Homo sapiens: one gene and its partners. The protein of the gene in region 3 purifies or fractionates together with the protein of the main gene of each other region. This does not show direct contact. Each region holds a gene or a part of one and is shown on either strand. Other genes may lie near its edges. The genes, in order: TMED7, POTEI, NID2, DCAF4 and LAMA4.

Region 1 (4,916 bases), on a different chromosome or scaffold from region 3:
AAATAAGACTGAGAAAAATAAAAAATGTAGCATGGATAAAGACGGGTATGATACTAACTGCTTTATTACCATTCATTTCTTATATTTACCCACTTAGGTTTTTAGAACAAGCCACCTTATACAAGTTAAAATTCATGAAGGAATGGATACAGGTTAAGGTAATGGCCCCAAAGAAATATCATTTTACAAAGCAAGGTGTCCTTCACACAAGACCTTAAAATAAAGAGAACATTTCTAAAATTAAGAGTATTTGAATATATCTTGCTAATTCTAACAACAGGTTTATGAATTAAGGCTTTTACACATTCTTAAAGCTGTTTCTTTCACCATGACTTTGGCCAAGAGACTAAATAGAACCTGGGAACACTAAAATACCAGTTTAAGATGTTAACGAATAAGTGGTAAATAATTCTTTTTCATGCCTAATTGAGTAACTTTTAGATACGATCTAAGCCCATACAGGTTGAGTATCCCTTATCCAAAATGTTTGGGACCAGAAGTGCTTTGAATTTCAGATTTTTTCTGATTTTGGAATGTCTACATATACATAATGAGATATCTTTGTGATGGAACCCAGGTCTAGACATGAAATTCATTTATGTTTCATATATGCCTTATACATGCAGCCTTAAGGCAACTGTATATGATATTTTCAATGATGTGTCATGAGATCAGATGTAACAATCTTCCACTTGTGTCATCAGGTTGGAGCTAAAAAAAAGTTTTGGATTTTGAAGCATTTTGGATTTTGCTGTATTTGAACTAGAAATAAAACAGTCCTCATCACCTAAGCAATAGTTGTTCACTGGGTTTAAATTTTTTACGCTTTCTCTATGTCTCCAAAATAAATCTGAATTTAGCTTTTGTAACTATTTTTGTGAGATGACTTACCATTAATCTTCAATATTTCACCTAAAGTTACAGCACAAGTTACTGTTACAGCAGCTTGAGTAACACTAAGTAATGGTATAAAGGCTATGATATGGTATTATTTATCTACTAATTTAGGCATCATTTTGCTTCCAGTTACACCAGCCTCCTGAGTATGACAGCAACATTCCTTCAGGGATTAAAGAAAATGCTTCAGAAGATTGGAACACTGCTCAGCCTTCCCAACCTTCTTTTACCACTGATGTTTCTACCTTAGTGATCTTCCTCCTTATTTTAATGCTTCTTTCTCTTTACAATTAAAAGTTCATAAAATCTTTCAACATTATTTTTCACTACAAAAGTCTGAAGTTCTCTGTGAAATGCCTACATGTAAGAATTAAGATAGATTTTAAAGACTGTCAGTCTCAAAATTCCATGCTCATCAGTTAGTGCATGATATTAAATTATGCTTTTTTCCTCCTTTTAAATATACCAACATTATATTGCTGATTTTTTTATTTACCTGGGTAAGAGCACTGACTCGGTTCTCACTAGGAAACAAAGGTGGGTCTTCTCCAACTTGAAAATCAAAATATACAGTTTTATGTGTGAAAGTAGAAAATTCATTGCTGAAGCAAAATTTGTATGTCCCATTTTTGGAGGCTGTGAAGGTAAAACTATCATACTGTTTCTTCATCTCTTTGTATAACACTTTACCATCAGGATCTTCTAATCGACAATCTACATCATAGTGACCACCAGTAATCACCTGTAAGAGATTAAAAAAGAAAAATCACTGTGAAAAGTGTGAAAAATTAATCAGATTTAATCAGATTTCCTATTAAAATGGCAATAAGGTGATGGGCAAAGGACTTTTACTATCTTTTTAAATTTTCACCAGTGGATGGAACTTGGGAGATTTTACTTCAACTAAACTTTACAGAAACTGAACAAGTATTCTCCAACTTTTATTCACTTTGAACTAGCCAGACAACTGTGCTAATTAATGGAGATCTATTAGATCACTTAATTCTCCCAGCAACCCTACAATATACTTTTTTCCTTCCATTTGACAGACTGAAAAACTGATGTTAAATAAGCGAACTATTCAAGACTGTTCATCTAAATTAAGTGGGAAAGGCAGAACTTGAACTCCAAAGTCATATTCTTAACCTCTAAGCTTACTGCCTGCAATATTTTCCTTCTGAAAATTTTCTAACCCACTTTCCTATTAGCATCATCCAAGCACACACACAGTGAAGTAACAAGGTAGGCCAATCCTTAGGATTACACCCCATTCATACTTCTATCATAGAACTTAAGCTCATTTTACTGCCAAATTACAAATAGATTACATTTATTAAGTTCTTTTATAGTCAGTTATATGGAATTTGATATACATTTTGTTTTGAACTACACTATAAGTTGAGTAACGGAGTGGGCTATTCTAAAAGTATATAATCATTTACAACCTTGTTTTGAGGAGAGACACGTAACTGATTAAATAAAATATTGTTGAAACTCTTGTGATTAAAGCAAAAACAAAATAACATGAAGGACAACAAGTCTGTTTATCTAGAAAGCCAGTACTTAATGGCAAACATACTGAATGGAAGCCTGGAGGTAGGTGATATGAGTCTGAACAGAACTGTGGAACTACTTTCCACGGCTTATGCTTAATCAGTTACAATTCCAGCCATTTGGGTTGTACAGAGGAGGGAGAGATTTTTCCTGCGGTAACTGGATAAGTATTGTAAGAGACAAAAGGGGGAAAGGATTAAAGAGAAAGGCTTCCTTACATGAGAAAGAACTGAGTAGGAAGAAAGAGGGAGTGCAGAGAGGTGAACAGAGTGAACGTATACACATTGGGTTGAATGAAGGGTTCCCAAACCACCATGTGATTGGGGAGCACAAGATTGTTATTTTCAACCTTGAACTCTCTTGGTTAGCATCCTGACATTCTAGGTCAAACTTTGGATTTAAAAGAAGGATCTGTGTGACCTTTTCTCACTTGAGAGAAGATGACTAATGAACTATGTTACATATCATTTTGATAATCTAATGAAAATAATTATGCACTTATGAAACTGTAAAAATATGTAAATGTTAATATACAGATAAAATGTTTTGATATAAAAGTGTCTTATCAATTGGGGATTTACCAATCCCCATCCTCACCAAAAAGTCAGTAACTTTTTCTCCAGGTGAAAATAACTTCATTTTGCTATACTGAATTATACGTATTTGACCATTGTATTCTGAATAATCAAACACATACATACAAACCGAATAGCACCAGAACTTATCATCACCCCACTTCTCTTCCATCAAACTTAAAACAAGTAATCTCACTTAACAGTATCCCTTTAAACCTGTCCAATCACCTACTATTGAAACTGAGGATCATCCCAAACTAACTGTCCCTATCTATCCATATGATCACACAAATCTCTCAATCTTTTTGCCCCTCTCAAATTCATCGCATTCCGAAACCACAATCCAGACAGGACTATTGCCACAACTTCCTAAAAGGTCTTCCCACTACCCAATATCTTCTCCCTCGAACTCAGGGTTTCTCAACCTCGCATTATTCCCATTTTGAACTGAATAATTCTGTGTTGTAGGAGGCTGTATGGTCCTGTGCACTGTGACACGTTAAACAGCATACCTGGTCTCTAACTACTAGATGCAGGTAGCTGCCCTTCTCCTAAAATGATGCCGAATGTCTCCTGGGAAGAAGGGGTGCCCATCTCCCCATCTTTCCTCATTCCCCATTGAGCAATCACTTAAAAACTTTTTGATAATTACCTGTGGCCTGCAGACAAATCTAAACCTCTTAACAATGGTATACTATTCACATGTTCTTCCTCCCAGGTAGCTTCAGAACCTCTTTTATTCACACCCTTACTCGTTCTATGTTCCTAAAATACCAGACTACCAGAAATTCTCTGAACAAGTCTTTGCTTTACATCTGCACTGACAGTGCAGTTCAACAGGGTTTGCTAAAGAATCACACGGATCAAAATGACAGTGTTTGCAAATCTACAGTTTATTACTGTAGGTTATGTTATAAATCTACAGTTTATAACATTATACGACTATATATGTCTATGTAAGCTCTCTGAGGTCAGAGTCAGTCTCTGGGAGGTAGTATAATAAAGTGGCTAAGAATTTAACTTGGGACTGAAAAGAGCCCCAAAAGGAAAAGAATATAAAACATTACAGCCAAAGGCTGCCTCACAGCAAGAGATCTGAAAAGGTCAGGTGTGGGCTCCTTCGGCTTCCCTTTGTTAGGTGTGTGGCCAGACATATACTCTCTCAGATCTGGAACCACCCAAGTGTGCAAAGAAAACACCCTGGAACCAAGCAACCCAAAATAGAGTCCTGATTGCATTTTTAAATATTTTGCTGGTCACATAGGCATATTCCTGCTACGCAGCTAGTCTCAACAACAGAGCTCTGGGTTGGGGGTGTGGTCTCATGAAGACCAGGAGCAAATCATCAATCTCATTGTTACCAATAAATAATGTTGACAAACTGGTACAAACTGCCCCCAAAGCCCTTGGACTCACAGTCACAAAGCTATTATAATAGCTTCATATTAAAGCTAATAATAATAGTTTTGTGACTATTAATAAATATAACTATAGTCACAAAACTATTATTATTCAGTGTATTTTCAATGCCATGCACAAATGTTAGCAATATAGCTCAGGCTAATTTCAGGCCTGCTGGAACTGTCATGAACATATCTGCCTGGGGCCCCTTCTTCTCTCCTCTGCCGCCTTGTAGAGCAACGGCTACTTATCTTGCAGACTCACCTCTAACATCAGCTCCTCAGCTAAATGTCCCCTGATGATCCTTCTGTCTCCTGCCAGCACTATACCTAGTGTGTACCTTTATTGTCACATTTAACATTTTATGACTATATATGTCTGTGTAAGCTCTCTGAGATCAAAGTCAGTCTCTGGGAGGTAGTATAATAAAGTGGTTAAGAATTTAACTTGGGACTGCGTTACTGATTTAGCTACTTCTACGTTTTATGC
Region 2 (4,103 bases), on a different chromosome or scaffold from region 3:
GCAGCACACCAACATGGCACATGTATACATATGTAACAAACCTGCACATTGTGCACATGTACCCTAAAACTTAAAGTATAATAATAAAATTTAAAAATTAAAAAAAAGTTTTAAAAAATTTCCAACTGGATTTTTTTTTGTTTTTTGTGGTTTTTTTTTTTGTTGTTTTTTTGTTTTGTTTTGTTTTTGTTTTTGTTTTGCAGCCCCAGGAGTTTTAGCCAATTCAGATGCCTTGCTCCCCACAATTTGGAACATTCCTTTGGATTTGACCAAGTCAGGAAGAGATGGGAGAAAAGTGAAACAACAATAAAACCCCAAACATAAACAAAAAGAGTTAAGCAAAACAAACAAATGCACAATTCATATGATTAACTGAGTGTTCTAATGGTAAGGAGGAATTAAAAGCAGCTGGTGGGTAATCTTAAATTTTAGTCATTAAGGAAAAATTTTAAGACAAAACTCTAATTCAGCTACTTACCTGGAAATAAGGCTCAGACTGGGTGATCATTCTCTGCCATCTTAGAAGCTGGAAAAACTTACACTCACCTTCCCTGTCAGAAGCAAGCTGAAACTCAGGAAAGGAGGTGCCTGCTCTCCTTTGTCAATGGAAGCAGGAAAACTTGCCTTCCTTGTTGGAAATGAGTAAAACTTCAAAAAAGGAGTTGTACAGCAAAATCAACCTTACATCTCAACCAAATTTTCGGAGATCAGGGACTCTGTGAAGGGGAGAAGCTCCACAACCTCAGCAAATTATCCTATTGGTTTGGGCAATACAAATAGCCCAGGTTGGTATCAAGCAATAATGAGATTTATCAAAGGTCAGGACCACCTTTGTAATGTCCTTCTCTTTTTTTATCTTTATTGGTAGAGTCTGTTTTGTCAGAAACTGGGAGTGCAACACCTTTTTTCTGTTTTCCATTTGCTTGAAATATTTTTCTCCATTCCTTTATTTTGAGCCTATGTATGGCACTGCACGTGAGATGGGTTGCTTGAAGACGGCATACTCCAGTGGGTCTTGGTTCTTTACCCAGCTTGCCCCGTGTCTTTCAATGGGAGCATTTAGCCCATTTACATTTAAGGTTAGTAATGGTATGTGTGGATTTTATCCTGTCGTCATGCTGTCAGCTGGTTATTTTGCAGACTTACATATGTGCTTGCTTTTTAGCATCATTGGACTGTGTACTTCAGTGTGTTTTTGTAGTAGCAGGTGATGATCTTTTCTTTCCATATTTAGTGCTTCCTTCAGGAGCTCTCGTAAGGTAGATCTGGTGATACCAAATTCCCTCAGCACTTGCTTGTCTGAAAAGGATCTTATTTCTCCTTCACTTATGATGCTTAATTTTGCTGGACATGAAATTCTGGGCTGAAATTTCTTTTCTTTAATGGCAGTTGATGTGGGTTGGGGTGTGTGCTGCACTCCTGTGTGCTCTCAGGGCAAGTAAAGCAAAACCCACCCGTGTAAACACACACAGCAAAGTGATTTAGGAAGTTTCCAAATAAAGGGCTGCCGTATGGAGAGGCAATGTGCAGGCTGGTGCGTGGCTCTAGGGGCCACCTTGCTGCAGCTCTCCACTGATATGGTACAGTCCACTAGCACGGAAGCTATGGTGTGGGCATCTAAGAGTGCCCCGTAAGCAGGTGTGGCCAGGCTGGGGCCATGGGAGAGGCGAGCAGACTAAGGAGTGCTGAGATCAGACCAGCCCCATCTCAAGTGCAAGATTGCCCAGCCTCCAGAGATCAGGTCTCAGAGGAGAACTCTCTCAAAAGTGAACCCCCAGCACAGCACAGCCGCTCTACACAAACGTGGCTAGACTTCTTTTATTAAGCAAGTCTCCTTTTTTTAAAAAGGGAACTCTCGGACCTGATCTCTGCTGGGCAATCTTGCATATAAGATGTGGCTGGTATGACCTCAGTATTCCTAAAGTGCTGGGATAAAGTGTCTCACAAGGGCAAGTGGACCCTAGAGAGACAGCCATCCCTGACCTCTGGGCTCCACATCACCTGACTTGCTGCTCCACCACTTTGCTTGTTTCCTGGGTGCTCCATCCCAGAGACATGTGAGTTAGCAATCACTTAGTGTAATCAGCCCAGGATGGAGGGTCTGTGCTGTGGGCCCAAGCCAGGGTTCCCTGTCTGGTGATGAGTAGTGGAGGGTGTGTGGTACCCGTGGGAGATGGACTGGCTTGTTCTTTGGGTCAACTGCAGCTTATTGGAGGTGTTGATAGGGCACTTAGGGTCTTTGCTCCCTTGCATCTTCTGAGGGCAGCAAGGGCAGTTCCACTGCAGAGGCAGTGGCAGAAAGGATTTCATTTGCTCCTGGAAGCTCTGTCCCAGGAACTGCAGAGTTGCTACTGGCTTGATAGCTCCAGTGGTGGGCTGGCTAGAGACCCAGGCCAGGAGGATCTGCCCATCAAGTAGAGAGCCTGGCCACTTTTCTGTAGGGCTGCTGTGGTATGCTGGGGGTCCCCTCCAGTCCCTAATTGCCTTGTATTTTCCAGGGAAGATGATAGTCTGCCCCTTCCTCTGGAAGCTCTGTACCACTGAGGTACGAACCTGTTGCCAATCTGAACACACCTATAAGATGTGGCTGGAGGCAAGTTGAGAAGTCTTACCTAGTCAGGACGAACAAGAACAGGGACTTGCTTCAAAAAGAAAAGTCTGGCCACGTTTTTATAGAGCAGCTGTGCTGTGCTGGGGGTTCACTTCAGCCCCTGGTCCGCCTCAGACACTCTGAAGCCCTAAGGCTGAAATGCCTGGGTCGCCCCAACAGCAAAGATGACAATCTGGTCCTCCCCCTGGGAGCTCTGACTCAGGGAGGCCTGAGACCTCTGTCGGCCAGAGAACAGCAGTCAAGGTAGCCAGAGACCCTGGTTGAAAGACTTCACCCACTGACTAGAAATGTGGTCAGGGACTGACGTAAACAAGAGTCTGGCCACGTTTTGGTAGCGTGGCTGTGCTGTGCTGAGGTACCTCTTCCACCCCTTGTCAGCTTGGGCTCTCCAAAGCCCGCAGGCCAGAATGGCTAGTCACCGAAAGAGCAAAGGTGGGGGCCTGCCCCTCTCCGGGAGCTCTGTCCCAGGAACATTTCACATTTCCATTGGCCAAGGAATGCTGGTGGGGGTAGCTGGAGGCCCCAGTTGGGAGGTCCTGTCCAGTGAGATGGAACAGGATCAGGGGCCTGCTTACAGAAGCAGTCTGGCCATGATTTGGTAAAGCAGCTATGCTGTGCTGTGGGATCTCTTCTGTCCCTCGTCGGTTTGTACTCTCCAAAGCCCGCAGGCTGGAATGACTAAGTTGCCTGAACGGGAAAGATGGCGGCCTGCCCCGTCTTTTCTCTCAGAGTTTTATCTTGTTTCATGGAGCTTAATTTTTAGCCTGTTGATTTTACTGTCTACGTTAGACTTGTTGAGAAAGAATCTGTTCTCTTTTAGGTGAGATAAATGAGAATTCATTGTCTTCTGTAAATAAACCTGTTCATGTCTTGTTCTCTGGAAAGAAGTCTCTTTCAGCTATCTGACTTTGGTCACAATCATGTAGAGCAGCAGCCAGTCTACAATGACGTAATTGAATTTCCATTTCCGGTGTTTCCTCGTTGTGTCTTACATTGTCCAGTTCAGAACTGAGCATTTTATTCTCAGTTGTCAACATGCTAAGCTGTCCACTGTACTGAAATACTGTGCTTCCTCAATTTTTTTTAAGGTGTGCACTTTTATCCAACTCTCCTCAAGTCAGAGTACAGGTAAGCCCTGGCTGCCTCCAGCCACTCTCAGGGAGACCAAAAGCCTTCATACACCCCAAGTTGGGGTACAAAAGAGGGGGGCCACGAAGGCTGATCATTCAAAATAAAACAAAATTAAAAAGTATTAAGGCGAAGATTCAAAAAATTTTGCATTATGTAATCTGCACAAAAGCAATGCTATCACCTCCCCTGTGTGAACTAGGGAGAGGACTGGGCCATTCTCCTTAGAGAGAAGTGGGGTGGCTTTTAGCAGGGCAAGGGGCTTCCTGAAACAATGCGTCTCACAATATTTGGAATGACTATTGAAAAGAAGAACAATGTACAATCAAAGTCCTTGGCCACATTGTAGAACTTTGGAGGAAGC
Region 3 (4,916 bases):
TACAAGTCTGACTTTATTCTTTTCCAAGATTGTTTTGGCTATTCTGTGTTCTTTGAATTTCCATATAAATTCTAGAATCAGCTTGCCAATTTCTTCAAAGAGCCAGCTGAGATTCTGATAGGGATTATGTTGAATTAATAGATCAATTTGGGAAGTATTCACATCTTAACAGTATTAAGTCTTCCAATCCATGAATGTGGAACATCTTCCCATTTAACTGGGTCTTAAATTTTTTTCCAAAAATGTTTTGTGGGATGCAATGTACAAGTACTGCACTTCTTTTTAAAAATTTATCTCTTTTTGAAACAATTTCTTAATCTTTAGTTTGCTCATTGCTACTATAGAGAAATACAATTTGGTGTACTGATCTTGCATATCTTATAACATTGCGAACTTGTTCTTTAGTTCTAATAGTGTTTTAGTGAATTCCTGAGATTTTCTACACAAAATGTCATCTGAGACTAATTTTACTTTGTCCTTTTCCAATTTAGATGGCTTTTATTTTGTGTTCTTGCCTAATCACCCTGGCTAGAAATTCTAGTACTGAATTGAATAAAAGTGGCAACAGCAGACATCCTTGTCTTGTTCCTAAGCTTCAGGGAAAAGCATCCAGTCTTTCACCATTAAGTATAATGTTCTGGGAATCATGGAGGGGGAGGTTATACATCAAGTTCTATGATGTTTGGTTTTTCCAGATACTAGCTCTTTGCTCCACCTTAGTTTTGGATGAAATTCTTCTCATCTGTTTTAGCTAAAATGTCACTTTCTTGGGGACATCTTTTCTGAATCTTCAAACTAGACTCACAGTGCCCTGCTCTCATCACACTTGTAACAAATACTTGTCAGCATCACTCTCCCTCCTAATTCCAGTCTGCCTTGTTCACAGGTATATTCCTGATTGGCACGCACAGTTGGGTATTGCTATAAACCAGCTTCACATACTATGCTCTATTTCCTGACTTTGGCAGGGACACTGTTCCCTGCCCTAAAACTCTTTTCTGCCTCTGTTTCCAACTCAAGGGCAAGGATCTGCTCTATTCATCCTTATACCTAGCACATAACACAGCATGGCACTAGGTAACCCTTAGTAACCTCTGTGAATCATTCTAACTCTACTTAAAAGGATGTCATTTTTACCCAACAACAAAAAAGGAAACCTTACCTTTGACCGGGCCAATTTGATTGGTCACAGCAAATCTAAGCACTCTTTCTTCGTCATTATACAAGGCAAAGACCCGGTCCACGTTCAGCTGCTGGGTGGTGGGGAAGGACGGGTGTCTGGGGGCGTGCCTGCACACCTGGTAAGTGATGTTCTGGTGGATGCGGTAGGACCATGTTTGGTTGATTGCACCAAAAGTCAGAGAGTAGTCTCTGGAACTTGTAGAGGTCACAGCTGCAACAAACACAGTGGTAATTTTTTAAAAATATTAAATACAGAGATTTTCATGTGAGGTGGATTTTTCTGCAGTTTTTTTCATCTAATTCTTGGAGTGTGTTCCCTTGGGAACCTCCTGAGTTTATATGAAAAAATGTGTAAGGAAATCCCAAAAACCTGAGTGGATGCAAAGCCACAGTGCTGAGAGGGAGAAGGCACTACAATTGTCCATGTTATTATACACAAAGAATAAGTGTTACTAAGGGCCAGCCATGCCAACAGTGCTCTCTACATACTGCCTCATTTATTCCTCACAACAGCCTGGTGAGGTGGGCACTAAATCATGTGATCAGAGGCTCACAAAGGTTAAGTAGCCTAAGATGCAATGCTGCCACATGGTAGAGCTGGAACTGAAACTCACATTGGTTTGACTCTACACCCTAAATTTTAAACCAATCCATCTTCTACATTTCACAGAAGTGACGACTTCCAACACCTCGCACTTCAGTAAATCTGAAGGATTCCAGAGAAGGGAAAGGGTTGTCTCTCACCATCTGAGTCTAGGAGTCAAGCTCAGGTCAGTGATCCGGACACTGACCATTTTGTTCACAGCCCAGGTCTCTGCTTCCCCTTGTCTTCCCTACATCTCCTGCCAGGCTGCCAGCTCTCAGCATAGGAGCAGCAGGGGTCAGAGGAAAGGCACAACTCAATCCGGATTGCTGTGCTGCACAACAGCAGCTGTGATGGAGGCAGCATCCTGTGCGCAGGTAGTACTTTCACAGAACACATCACGCTTCGCACACATTGATCACATAATATAGAAAAAGCATTTTTAGTTCCATGTGAAAGATGAGAAAATACATTCTCAGATATTAAGAGGCCTTTCCCTATAGATATTAAATGGCAAGTCCAGGATATAAATTCTTATCTTTTGACTCCAAATCTAGCATTAGTTTTATAATAAATTATAGCATCTCTGTGTTTTTTGGTTTTGTTTTTGAGATGGAGTCTTGCTTTGTCGCCCAGGCTGGAGTACAATGGCACAATCTCGGCTCACTGCAACCTCCACTTCCCAGGTTCAGATGATTCTCCTGCCTCAGCCTCCCAAGTAGCTGGGATCGCAGGAGCGTGCCACCACACCCTGCTAATTTTTGTATTTTTAGTAGAAACAGGTTTTCACCATGTTGGCCAGGCTGGTCTTGAACTCCTGACCTCAGGTGATCCACCCACCTTGGCCTCCCAAAGTGGTGGGATTACAGGCATGAGCCATTGCACCTGGCCTCTTTCTGTGATTTTTTTTTTTTTTAAAGCAGCCTGAACTCATCAGCTGAAACAAGGTTGAGATAAATATAAATTCCAATAATCACTATTTTTCCATGTTGCAGAAAGTAGGATGGTTAAAAACTGTATATAATTATACCATCCCTACCCACCCCATGGACAATGTTGCTATTGATTTTATTATTTGAAAATACTATGTAGGGATATAGATATTCTTATGTATAGCAGCCATTCTGCTCACTTACACGATATATTTCATGGTAACAATAAGAGTAATAACATAATAGAGCTCATTTTATGTTCCATGCACTGTTCTAAGGACATGCCATGTAAGTCATTTAAGCCTTGTATCTATCTTGTGAGATGGGCATAATCCCCATTTTACAGATGTGAAGACTGGTTATACATACTGGAGTCGGAGTAGTGGTACAGCTCCTTGTAGGGAGAGATGTGGGCTGTGAAATTTGCTGAGACGTAAGGCACCTGGCCTTGAATGTTGGTCTTAATGCTCAGGTAGTTCTCTGGGTCAAGTCCCTCAGCAGTTTGAGTGATACGAACCGTCTCCTCTCCCGGGTAGAATGTAACTTCCATGTCATGGGTAAAGGCAGCACCTGGAGATGAAAAACATTCAGCACAGGGATGAAAAGAGGTCTTGCTTAAACAGTTACCAGTATATACTGCCCGCTCCCAATTTCTACTGCTGTTGGAGATCGTGCCTAAGGAGATTATCTGATATCTGAGAGTAAGCACTATCAGCTGTTGATTCCATAAGTTCCCAAACTTTTCCATTGAAGAATATGGTTTCATCCTGCCTTACCTCACCCAGCTTCTCTTTGAACAAGCTTGTATTCTGTGAGAAATACTCTTGGGAACGTCCTTGACTTTTCTCTAAGGTTGCTAGACTTAGCAAAAAACAAACAAACAAATAAACCTAACAACAAAAAAACAAAAACAAATAAACTACCACCTAAGACATTCAGGGTTTTGTTTGAATTTCAGATAAGTATGTCTCATGAAATATGTGGGTAATACTTATACTAGAAAATTGTTTATCTGAAATACAAATTTATCCAGGTGTGCCATTTTTTATCTACTTTTGACCCAAGGGCTTTATTCAAATTTTGATTAAAGCAAGAACCTATTAACAGCTACCGAGCTCTGCAGTTAAAGATGGAGAAAGAACTTCTCACAAAACTATTTTTAATGCAATAAAGATAAAACCTCTAGCAAACAAGTTTTCAGGTTGGAAGGTGAGAATCCAAAAAGTATCTTCTAAATCCTTGTTGTCAACGGGTGGCCTTTCCAGCAACACTGGTACCTCACCTCCTAGCTTGGTAGAAAAGCAAAATCACGGACCCCACCCCAGGCCTGCTGAACCAGAATTTACATTTTGACAAGACCTCCAAGTGATGTGTGTGCAGGTTCAAGTCTGGGGTGCACCGGCCTATACTATTATAGGTTGTGGAGCTGGGAGGAGAAGAGCACCCCTTCCCCATGAAGTAAAATCATCCCCAGGTGCCCCAAGTACCATTTTTGCATTTGACAGATCTGTGCATAATTTAAAAAGCCTGACAAATATGCTGCAACAAATTGGGGTAAGAGGACACAAATGTTCTGAATGGAATCATCCTGTTTCTCAGAACAGCTGGGAGAACATTTAGACGAAATCACTGCCTTTCAAAAATCAGTGATGTGAGGTCAAACCATTCCCAACAACCTGTGGCCAGAAAACTACACACATGTGGCTCTAGTACATTAAACAAGTGATTCCTCTGTCACTGCGTAAAGGCCTAAAGACAGTGCCCCAAGGAGCACCACTGCCAAAGCAATGCTGACTACCGGCCTTCTCAGAGGCCCTACTCACCTGCGAGGCTGAAGCCGTTCTCAGAGCCAGGTTTTTCTAAAGCAAAGAGCCAGCCAAACAGGCCTCCAATTGGTGTGAGGGGGAGGAGGGCCTGGGCTGCTGGCTGTGGGATGTGGCTGATGGCCGTGTAGGCTCTGCCATCATTGCCCACGATATACGCATGCAGGTCCACATCAGTGAAGTGCACGGGTGTATGGCCCACGTGGAGGTGGCCACTCACTTTCCCATTCACTCGGTGAGGTGCCCCTAAAAGACAGCAAATCCAGTTAGGCTTGGACGTCATCCTGGCTAGAGATGGGTGTACCCAGGTATAATTATTCCACTGACAACTTCCAAAACTCACTCTTTAGCAAGTCACTTTAATGATTTCCTAACCAACCAATTATCCATCTATGA
Region 4 (4,916 bases), about 21 Mb from region 3:
GGTCTCCTGGGGCAGGAGGATGCAGTATCAACCTCCAGGGTCAATCTCTAGCATCGGCCTCCAGTCCCACCAGCAGATGACCGAGTCCAGATGCTCCTGCCTCTGTATCCTCCTCTCACTCTCCCTGGCTTTCCCTCAGCCTCCAGGAAGGATAGGGCTTGCCGGGCAGGCCCTGCTCTTACGTGGTCCATCGAAAGGTCAGGGACCTTTGTTTGCAGTGGTCCTTCTAGCTCTCTGCCAACCTTTCCCTGGCCCCTGGGTTTAAGCGGCTGACCTTGGCTTCCAGCTTGGGTCCAACCCAAACCAGAGAAGGCCTTTCACCCCCTGCAAATGATGTAATGGAGGTGTGTTGATGGGAGGTGCCACTGAAGCCAGGGGCGGCAAGCAAGGAGTCCTACCCTCTAGTGACCAAAGGCACACTGGGCTGCAGGTTTAGCCACCAAGTCCTGCCCCAGTTCAGGAAGAAGCAGATGTCCCCAGGTCCACTGTGAGCCTTTTTAATTGCATATACAACACAGCCAAGGAGAAGTTATTGTGTAAAGTTCAGTAGTCAAGGTGTGGCTGGGTCCAGACTCTGACGTTAAACGACGGAGCTGAAGTGGGGGGTGATGATGGTCGCCCCACAGCCTGCCTGCCAGCTCAGCGTCTCCCAGCGGGTAGCCAGCAGGCAGGTTAAAATCGTACAACCAAGAAGATGCCACCTACTTTCATTGCAGTTGGCTTCTCCAGAGCCAGGTTTGATGACTGGCAACGCTAAGCCACAAAGTGTCCAGAGGGTGGCAGCCACACCCTAGGCAGGTGTCCCCCTCCCACTCACCAGTATGAGGTTAAATCGGTCGCTTGCCAAGGCGGAGGGATCCATGCTTCGAATCTGGACCTTTTTCCTCTCCATGCAGCTGAGACGCAGCTCGTGGGCTAAACTGCAGAAACAGAGGGTGGGGGCATGGATGCTGAAGCTGACATCCATGAAGAAGATTCGGGGGTCTCTGGCCTTCCCTGCCCCGCTGACGCCCATCTCTCCTCGTCAGCCTGCTCCACAGTACTTCTCAGCAATGGAGCTGAGCAAGATCCCAGATTATCCGAATTTGAGTTTCCCCACAGAACGCTCAGGAAGATGAAAATGAAGAAGTGGGTGGCCCATTTGCAGAGTCAAAGAGTGGGAGTTAGAGGGAGTTGTGTCTGCATCATTCAGTACAGCTCCTTCCCCTGAGATGACGAAAGTGCGGGAGATGAAACAATGGTCTGGAGGGCACTCCGCTGCTGGGAAGAGCCCCAGGATACGGCTGCCGGGAAGAGCCCCAGGATACGGCCGCCTCTTGTTTCGCAGGGTGAGGAACAGATCTAACTAGATTTTTAACTTTCTGTCTCAGAAGGAGGAAAACAGGAGGGGCCTGCCCTGCCTGATACCTACGGTGTTTCTGGCCTTCCCTGAAGGGGCCCTGCTCCAAGGTCCGAGGGCTGTGCCCCAGGAAGCTGCCTCAAATGCAGGTTCTTCACTTGAGCATGTACAGTGGGGGCAGGAGACGCAGCGCTGGGCGCTCAGGTGTTGGAGTCAGACAGTTCCCCACTTCTAGCTTTACCTTGAGCAAATCACTCCACTCTGAGCCTCAGTCTCTTCTTCAGGAAATGGGGGAAAGTATCGGCCTATTTCACAGGGTTTTAGTTAGAATTGTATCAGCCATCATAAGTACTTTGATAAGGTTTAGTACACACACATCCACTTAATGCCCCATTGTTGGTGACAACTCATTAGAAGGGAAAGAAGGATGCAGAAATGTCATGGGAATGAAGTTGTAGGAGCTTCTACTAGAATGACTTACGAGTAACAGAGAATAGACATCTCTGCCTACGTCCCCATCCTCTCTCCCTATCCTCCTGCAAGAGTCCCCCGCCTTCGCTCTAGAGAGAACAGCTTTCTCAGGGTGGGTTTAAGCAGCAGAAGGCAGGGTGTGAACTGGAGCCCCTCAACTGTGCAGGTGCTTCACGGGGTAGCCACATGGTCTATCCAGACTGGATTCTTATACCATGAAAATAAGAAACAGGAAAAGAACATTCATGAAGAAAACATAACAAAGAGGCATTGTCTTACTGGCAGTAATTGGTGACGTTGAGAAAACCCAGCTGGCTTTTTCGTAGCATGGAAGATGCATTAAATCCCATCCTGGCAATCTATATTTATTACAAAAAAGAGAACAATTCAATGAAGATTTATTTGTTAGGGGATGATGGAGAATGTTTTTAGTTCCATAGGATGTAATGAAGGAAACAGGCACTAAATTGGCAGAAATTATATGCATAAAAATCTGACGGTGTCCTTTCCAAGTCTCCCTTCCTCGGCAAGAGGAAAGGCCCAGCAGAAGAAAGTGTGAGTGGGAAAGTCTGCTCGTCAACTCTGCCCACGCTCCCCATCCACATACACCCGGGGGGACGAAGCCACCAGGTGCGTGAGTGCAGCAATGGGACTGCAAACAGGTCTGCACCACTCTCCATTCCACCCGTGGTGACCCAGGGCTGGAACTTTACATTCCATTGCCTACCTTGACAACAAAATATGTTAGCGTCTAGACCTGTTGGTCTGTATTGCAAACAGACAAGATGGCCTGTATTCCAAACCATGCATCCTGGTCTTCTATTTAAAATAGACAGCTGGGATGGGCATGGTGGCTCACACCTCTAATCCCACACTTTGGGAGGCCAAGGTGGGCGGATTACTTGAGGCCAGGAGTTCGAGACCAGCCTGGCCAACATGGTGAAACTCCATCTCTATAAAAAAAATACAAAAATTAGCTGGGCATGGTGGCAGGTTCCTGTAATCCCAGCTACTTGGGAGGCTGAGGCAGGAGGATCACTTGAACCTGGGAGGCAGAGGTTGCAGTGAGCCGAGATGGCGCCACTGCACTCCAGCCTGGGCAACAGAGTGGGACCCTGTCTCAAAAAAACCCCAAAAAACAGTTACTAAAATTATATCACACTGCCTCCCAAGATTCCTTCAGGAATGACAAAATGTTAGAACTGCTGAAGAAGGCTGGGTGTGGTGGCTCACGCCTGTAATCCCAGCACTTTGGGAGGCTGAGGCAGGCAGATCACTTGAAGTCAGGAGTTCAAGACCAACCTGGCCAACATGGTGAAACCCTGTCTCTACTAAAAATAAAAAAATTAGCTGGGCATGGTGGCACGTGCCTGTAGTCCCAGCTACTCAGGAGGCTGAGGCAGGAGAATTGCTTGAATCTGGGAGGTGGAGGTTGCACTGAGCTGAGATCATGCCACTGTACTCCAGCCTGGGCAACAGAGTGAGATTCCGCCTCAAAAAAAAAAAAAAAAACAACTTATCGAACAAGAAAACGGGGATGGAAGAAGGGGGCTCTTGGCTGTTCTTATTCTTGTCTTCTTCCTGTCAGGGAAAAGCTAGGGCCACACCCCCTGAAGTGCCTCTGCTAAGTGTCGCAGGGGCATCTAATTGGCACCCTTTTCAACAGTGGATGGACAGGTGCTGGCAGGAGCGGAGAGGACAGGGGGCGAAGGGGTGAGGAGCCCACCTTTTTCCGTCTGTCTTCTTCCTGGAGCAGCCGCAGTCTCTTGCTCTCCATCTCCTTCTGCCGGATGCTCTCTTTCGTCAGGGGGTTGCAGTTGTTATGTCCAGGGAGCAAGCGGAAGTAGCGTTTCTTTTCAGGGTCAAAGTAAAACCCAGGTAGCTCTTTAGACAAAAAAATTAAATGCACCAATTTCAACCACTGTGAACTGACCACCTGAGTTGGGCGCCCAGTGGCCTGTCCCCCCACCTCGTGGCTGCCTGTCTTTTCTGAGGGCGGGGATGAGCTGCCTTGTCAGGCAACATCCTGGACTGTGCTCAGTCCTGGGGGAGGCGGTTTGCCTCATGACCACCATTCCTGACGCACCCAGCTCCTTCCCTGAGTGTTTCAATTTGCTCCTGGAATTCCTTCCAAGCCAGGAACGGGTCTCAGCCTTCCCTGTGTGCAAGGGCCAGGATTCCCACCCCGCAAGTGGCCTTACCTGGCACAGAGGAGGTCCCAGCTGTGCCAGACGAGGTTGACGGAGACTCGTCATCACCGTGGCCGGAATCGTGAGCGGGCTGTGCTGCCCGGGAGTCAGACCTGTTGACACACAGCTGTGTTAACTTGCAGCCCAGGACTTGAGTTCCAGCCATTCTGACGGGGGCAGGGAGTCCATTCGGGCAGTTCTGCAGCCTTCACCTCTGATCTCTGACCTTTCTGATTACTTGAGAAGCACTGATCCCCTCTTGCAAATACAACAAAATAGGGCAAGGTTTTGGTTTTTCATTCTTTTTTCTTTCTTTAAAAGAGGACAGATGTCACAGTGATTCCCTCTTCTTATCTTCTCACTCGCGCATTTTGTGAGGTCTTGTGGAATTTTCCAGATTAAAAGGAAAAATAGAAATCTCTGCCAATAAGAATTTTACCAGCTGGGCTCATTTGTCAGCACAACAGCAGTTACAAGGCTAGGTGAATTTCATTCTTTATTGGATTCAGTAGCACAAAGAGTTTAAATTTTACTTGACTACACAATCTTACAGACAGAGAAACTGGGGTTTGGGGGACAGAGGTGATTAGTTCAGTAACACTGGGATAGAGCTGCGGCTAAAACACTTGATTTGTAAATCCACAAGTAGCTTCTGAGGGAATTATAGGCTGAAGGATGTAGTAAAGGTGTGTGCCACCACACCCAGATAATTTTTATATTTTTAGTAGAGACGGAGTTTCGCCGTGTTGGCCAGACTGGTCTCAAACTCCTGACCTCAAGTGATCCGGCTGCCTTGGTCTCCCAAAGTGCTGGGATTACAGGCGTCAGCCACCACACCCGGCCCAGCCAACTTTATTTTAAAAATACATTTAATGTAGCCTTGGCCTGGGTGGTGGTTCAAGTCTGTAATCCCAGCA
Region 5 (4,916 bases), on a different chromosome or scaffold from region 3:
ATCAGAAAGTTACAGACTCATAGTCTAGCTCTACTCAGCTCCATGAGAATCTCCTACTGATGACTCAACTTAAGGATAAACAGAAACAATAAAGAGTAAAAGAGTAATAATATATTAGAAGTAGATATCTTTTACAAGATATCTAGATATGCTCAGGTAATAATCACTAGTTCTAAAGCTAGGATGAGGCTGGGCATGGTGGCTCATGCATGCAATCCCAGCACTTTGGGAGGCCCAGGCAGGGGGATTGCCTGAGGTCGGGAGTTCAAGACCAGCCTGGCCAACATGGTGAAACCCTGTCTCTACCAAAAGTACAAAAATTAGCTGGGCATGGTGGCGGGTGCCTGTAATCCCTGCTATTCAGGAGGCTGAGGCAGGAGAATCACTTGAACCTGGGAGGCGGATGTGGCAGTGAGCCAAGATTGCACCACTGCACCCCAGCCTGGGCAACAGAGCTCTGCCTCAAAAATAAATAAATAAACAAAATAAAGCTAGGATGATTCAGTCCATTAAAACAATTGAAAAGAACATAAGGCAAAAAGTGAGAACCAGCAGGACTGGTTTCACAAGGTAACAGGTCACAAAGACCCCGCAGTAAAGAAGCTGGCCAAACCACGCCAAAACCAAGATGGTAATAAAAGCCACCTCTGGTCTCTGTCACTGCTCATTACATGCTAATTATAATACATTAGCATACCAAAAGAAACTCCCACCAGCACCGTGACAGTTTACAAATGCCATGAAATGTCTGGAAGTTACCCTATAAGGCCTGAAAGGTGGAGAAACTCACGGTTCTGAGACTTCCCCATCCCTTTCCTGGAAAACTCATAAATAATCCATCCCTTGTGTAGCATATGATCAAGAAATAACCATAAACACAGACAACCAGCAGCCCTCAGGACTGCTTGTCTATAGAGTACGCACCCTTTTATTCCTTTACTTTCTTAATAAACTTGCTTTCATTTTACTCTGTCGGCTGGTTCTTGAGTTCCTCCCTGTGTGAAGCCAAGAACCCACATGGCCTCCCAGGCTGAACTCCAATTTGGGGGTTTACCCTGTGACACGTGTACTACTGCTAATGGGCATTGTGTCCCGGGGTCAAGCACCCACACCTCCCCTCTCTTCTCACGTACAAAATGAGAGAGTTGAATCTCTAAACTTCCTAAGTCTGACATTCTATGATTCCTTTGATTTCATGGCTCATATTGCAAGGTATGATAGATTTATGTAACCAATAATAACCACCCACTGACTCTGCTTTCAAACAGGTCTCCTTTATGCTGAATTCTGTGCTGCAGGAGAAGCTTCAGGTCTCTTATGAATGGAATTTCAGGGTGTCTATTGGCATTAATGGTGGCAGACAACAATTTCAAAGGAACAATATAAAATGAGGCAATTATTCATGTACTACAATTAAACCGCAGCCCATCTCCAGATATTCAGACCATTTAATCTCCAAATAGCAGGCATTTAACACCTCATCTGTGACCTGGGGGTTGACAGAACCACCTAGGACTCAGGACAGATAGCAGGAAAAGAGGTAACACTTAGGTAACACCTTCAGCTTGTCAAATTGTATCACTGTTCATCAAAGGGAAACACACACATGTAGCCATGAAGTTTGAAAGGCATCCTGGACTACCTCTGCTGTGGAAGAAGAGGCTTGCCAGGGTTTTCAGAACCCGAATTTGTGCTGTGGCTCTGTGTTGTGATTCTAGAGGGTTCTATAGTCCTAGCATCCCAGGGCCTGAGGCTTACTAGACATTTCTCTTCCCTTTGGCTGGTGTCTATGTTATGTGTTTCTTTGGACTGACATTTGGCTTTCTAGAGCTGCTTGGTTCAGCATGCCATGTTGCATTTCACTTTGTACATAGACAACAGTGTTCCATGTAATAGTTGTGTGTGTGAGGGAAGTTTTAGTGAAGGTACTTTTGATTCCTAGAGTCCTTGATTTCCTTTGAAGCAATCATGCCACTCCAAAATGGCATAATTTCAAAATAAATATTAATATGCAAAGTCTTCATCATGCTCAGGGGCCCTTTTAGCTGTAGAGTACAGCCTGGATGACTGGTCTACTCTGCAAAGACTTGTGCTAATGCAGCTGTTAATGTTACGGGATTTCTCTAACTCATCAGTTCTCATGAAGTAAAAAATGTGTATACTTCACTCCATTTAGGTAAACACGGATCTCTAGCCTCCACCAAAACACAACATAAAAACTAAGAAAGTCCTGGGAGTGAAAAGAAGGTCATTTTGCATATTACTCAAATTATATTCACCCGTCTCTCCTCCCGCTTTTAACAGAATTTGTTTATGTATTTTTTTCTTTATGGAGAGGATTTGGGCTGAATATGGAAATTTTCCCATTACCATTCAGCTTCAGAATGTTGTTTCCCCCAAGTTTCTCATGATAAAAAGACTCAGATTCAGAGCCGAACTGCTGGCAGCTGAATTTCATTAAGACTTTGATGGGAAACTTAAGTTGGAATTACAAACATCTGTGGTTAAACTTCCCTTTAGTAAACCATTTCCCAGAATTTAACTTTACCACACCAAGAGCCAAAAAGAAAAACAGTTGAAAAAAGAATGCTGCTCTTTTGCAAATATGAGTAGGTATTTAAATATTCTTCTGTATGGTCACTATACATCAATAGACTAGGTTTACTTATTTTAGAAAAAAATGATTGTTTGGAAATGCTAAGGTTTGGACTCAAAGCATATACTAGCAATCTGGTTTTAATGGCTTTTAACCAATCAAAGTTCTCAAAATTATGTCTGGCCATCATTATATTTATGTGGTTACTATAAGCCAGAAAAAACTCTAAAGTAGGGGAGTGTTTTTGGCATTTTAATTCAAGAAACTGTGACAAGTCAGATTTAGTATTTAATTATGAGAGGAAAAAAGGTATTATCCTTGTCATATCAAAGCTGCTTTTTTTTTTTTTTTTTTGAGATAGAGTCTCGCTCTGTCGCCCAGGCTGGAGTGCAATGGCACAATCTCCGCTCACTGCAACCTCCGCCTCCCGAGTTCAAGGAATTCTCTGCTTCAGCCTCCCAAGTAGCTGGGATTACAGGCACCTGCCACCATGTCCAGCTAATTTTTTTGTATTTTTAGTAGAGGCGGGGTCTCACCATCTTGGCCAGGCTGGTCTTGAACTCCTGACTTTGTGATCCACCCATCTTGGCCTCCCAAAGTGTTGGGATTACAGGCGTGAGCCACCGTGCCCAGCTGCTGTTGGCTTTTTTCTTTAGCTTTTCTAGGGATTTAGCATTCATTTCTCTTAACTGCTCAGATCCTCCTATTGCTGGGGAAAGGCTGTTTAAAGAACCATAAAAGACACAATGATTATAAAAACTAAATGACAGCCTTCTTCTCCAATGTTGGATAATCAGCAAATTTTAAGCAAAAGTTAAAAGTACTCGAATTTATGGAATAAGTAAAGAGTTTGATAACAAAATACTTTTAACAAGATAGTGTAGAGCTTTACCTGAAGATAGACAGAGGCAGAGAGTGGAAAAATGAGGGAAAGGAAGGAGGGACAGACTGAGAGAAATGAGGGCTAACTTTGTGTTGGGCAGCTTACATATATTATTTCATTTAAATTTCACAAGAATTTTGCAAGGCAGGTGTATTTCTATTTATTTTACAATCAAAGGAACTGAGTATCTAAAAGATGGTCCAATTTGCCCAAAGTCAAACAGCTAGAAAGTTGTGGAGCTGGATTCACAGCGCATCTGTCTGGTTGTAAGCCCATATTCTGCCTGTAACGAAAGGTGAACTTCAAAATATTGTAAAGCAGAGGCTGCAAATAAATGATCTTTAGGCTGAATCTGGCCCTCAGATGTACTCAGCCTACAGGGCATTAAAAAAAATTTGAGTCAGCAATTTCACTTATGAATCCAAATTCTGTCTTCTTTTGAAAAAGACACAACAAAACAAAACAAAACCAGAAGACCTGGCAATGCTGAGAGGTGGCTGCCACTCTGGAAGAGGGATTCTTCCATTTCCTGTTATCGAGGCCCACCACTCACAGGATGCGTTTCTTTACCGAGCTAGATTCACTCAATTCTTTTTTACCTGGCCCCTATAAGACTCCAAGTCTTAAAACTTTCTCTGTACCATATGATCCAGCAATTCCACTTCTAGGTATACACTCCCAAAAAACTGAAAGCAAGAACTCAAACAGAGGCTTGTACAGCAATATTCATAGCAGCATTACTCACAGTAGCCAAAAGGTAGAAACGACCCAAATGTCCATCAACAAAATGAATGGACAAAACATAGTGTACATATAAACAGAGTATTATTCAGTTTTAAAAAGGAATGCAATTCTGACACATGCTACAACATGGGTGAGCCTCAAAGACATTATGCCAAATGAAATAAGCTAGGCACAAAAGGATAAGTACTGCATGATTATGTATATGGAGTATTTAGAGTAGTTAAATTCATAGAGACAAAGTAGAATTGTTGTTGCCAGGGGCTGGAGGAAGGAGTTAATCGGAAGTTATCATTTAATGGGTTTCAGTTTGGGAAAATGAAAAAGTTCTGGAGATTGATGGTGATGGTTTTATAACAATGTGAATATAGTCAATGCCACTGAACTGTGCCCTTAAAAATAGTTCAAATGGCCAGGTGCAGTGGCTCATGCCTGTAATCCCAGCACTTTGGGAGGCCGAGGCAGGCAGATCACAAGGTCAGGAGATTGAGACCATCCTGGCTAACACGGTGAAACCCGTCTCTACTAAAAATACAAAAAATTAGCCAGGCATGGTGGCACACGCTTGTAGTCCCAGCTACTCGGGAGGCTGATGCAGGAGAATTGCTTGAACCCGGGAGGCAGAGGTTGCAGCGAGCCAAGATAGCACCACTGTACTCCAGCCTGGGTGACAGAGGGAGACTCTGTCTCAAAAAA

What was found.
Region 1: the proteins of NID2 (region 3) and TMED7 purify together in Homo sapiens (affinity purification with mass spectrometry; one large-scale study listed by BioGRID and IntAct). This does not show direct contact.
Region 2: the proteins of NID2 (region 3) and POTEI purify together in Homo sapiens (affinity purification with mass spectrometry; one large-scale study listed by BioGRID and IntAct). This does not show direct contact.
Region 4: the proteins of NID2 (region 3) and DCAF4 purify together in Homo sapiens (co-immunoprecipitation; one large-scale study listed by IntAct). This does not show direct contact.
Region 5: the proteins of NID2 (region 3) and LAMA4 purify together in Homo sapiens (affinity purification with mass spectrometry; one large-scale study listed by BioGRID and IntAct). This does not show direct contact.

Annotation. Positions count from the first base shown.
Region 1 is NC_000005.10:115,619,042-115,623,957, forward strand, and holds part of TMED7 (transmembrane emp24 domain-containing protein 7 precursor), read right to left. Parts: intron 1,640-4,916; coding exon 1,394-1,639; intron 1,379-1,393; exon of another isoform or gene 1,027-1,378; intron 159-1,026; exon of another isoform or gene 98-158; intron 1-97. Other genes in the region: TMED7-TICAM2 (TRAM adaptor with GOLD domain isoform 1 precursor), read right to left, coding at 1,394-1,639. UniProt on the Homo sapiens protein: Potential role in vesicular protein trafficking, mainly in the early secretory pathway. Appears to play a role in the biosynthesis of secreted cargo including processing and post-translational modifications.
Region 2 is NC_000002.12:130,458,533-130,462,635, forward strand, and holds the end of POTEI (POTE ankyrin domain family member I), read right to left. Parts: 3' UTR 923-4,103; downstream 1-922.
Region 3 is NC_000014.9:52,037,585-52,042,500, forward strand, and holds part of NID2 (nidogen-2 precursor), read right to left. Parts: intron 4,767-4,916; coding exon 4,521-4,766; intron 3,268-4,520; coding exon 3,067-3,267; intron 1,394-3,066; coding exon 1,163-1,393; intron 1-1,162.
Region 4 is NC_000014.9:72,938,998-72,943,913, reverse strand, and holds part of DCAF4 (DDB1- and CUL4-associated factor 4), read right to left. Parts: intron 4,113-4,916; coding exon 4,012-4,112; intron 3,695-4,011; coding exon 3,537-3,694; intron 2,170-3,536; coding exon 2,090-2,169; intron 921-2,089; coding exon 818-920; intron 1-817. UniProt on the Homo sapiens protein: May function as a substrate receptor for CUL4-DDB1 E3 ubiquitin-protein ligase complex.
Region 5 is NC_000006.12:112,243,589-112,248,504, forward strand, and holds part of LAMA4 (laminin subunit alpha-4 isoform 1 precursor), read right to left. Parts: intron 1-4,916. UniProt on the Homo sapiens protein: Binding to cells via a high affinity receptor, laminin is thought to mediate the attachment, migration and organization of cells into tissues during embryonic development by interacting with other extracellular matrix components.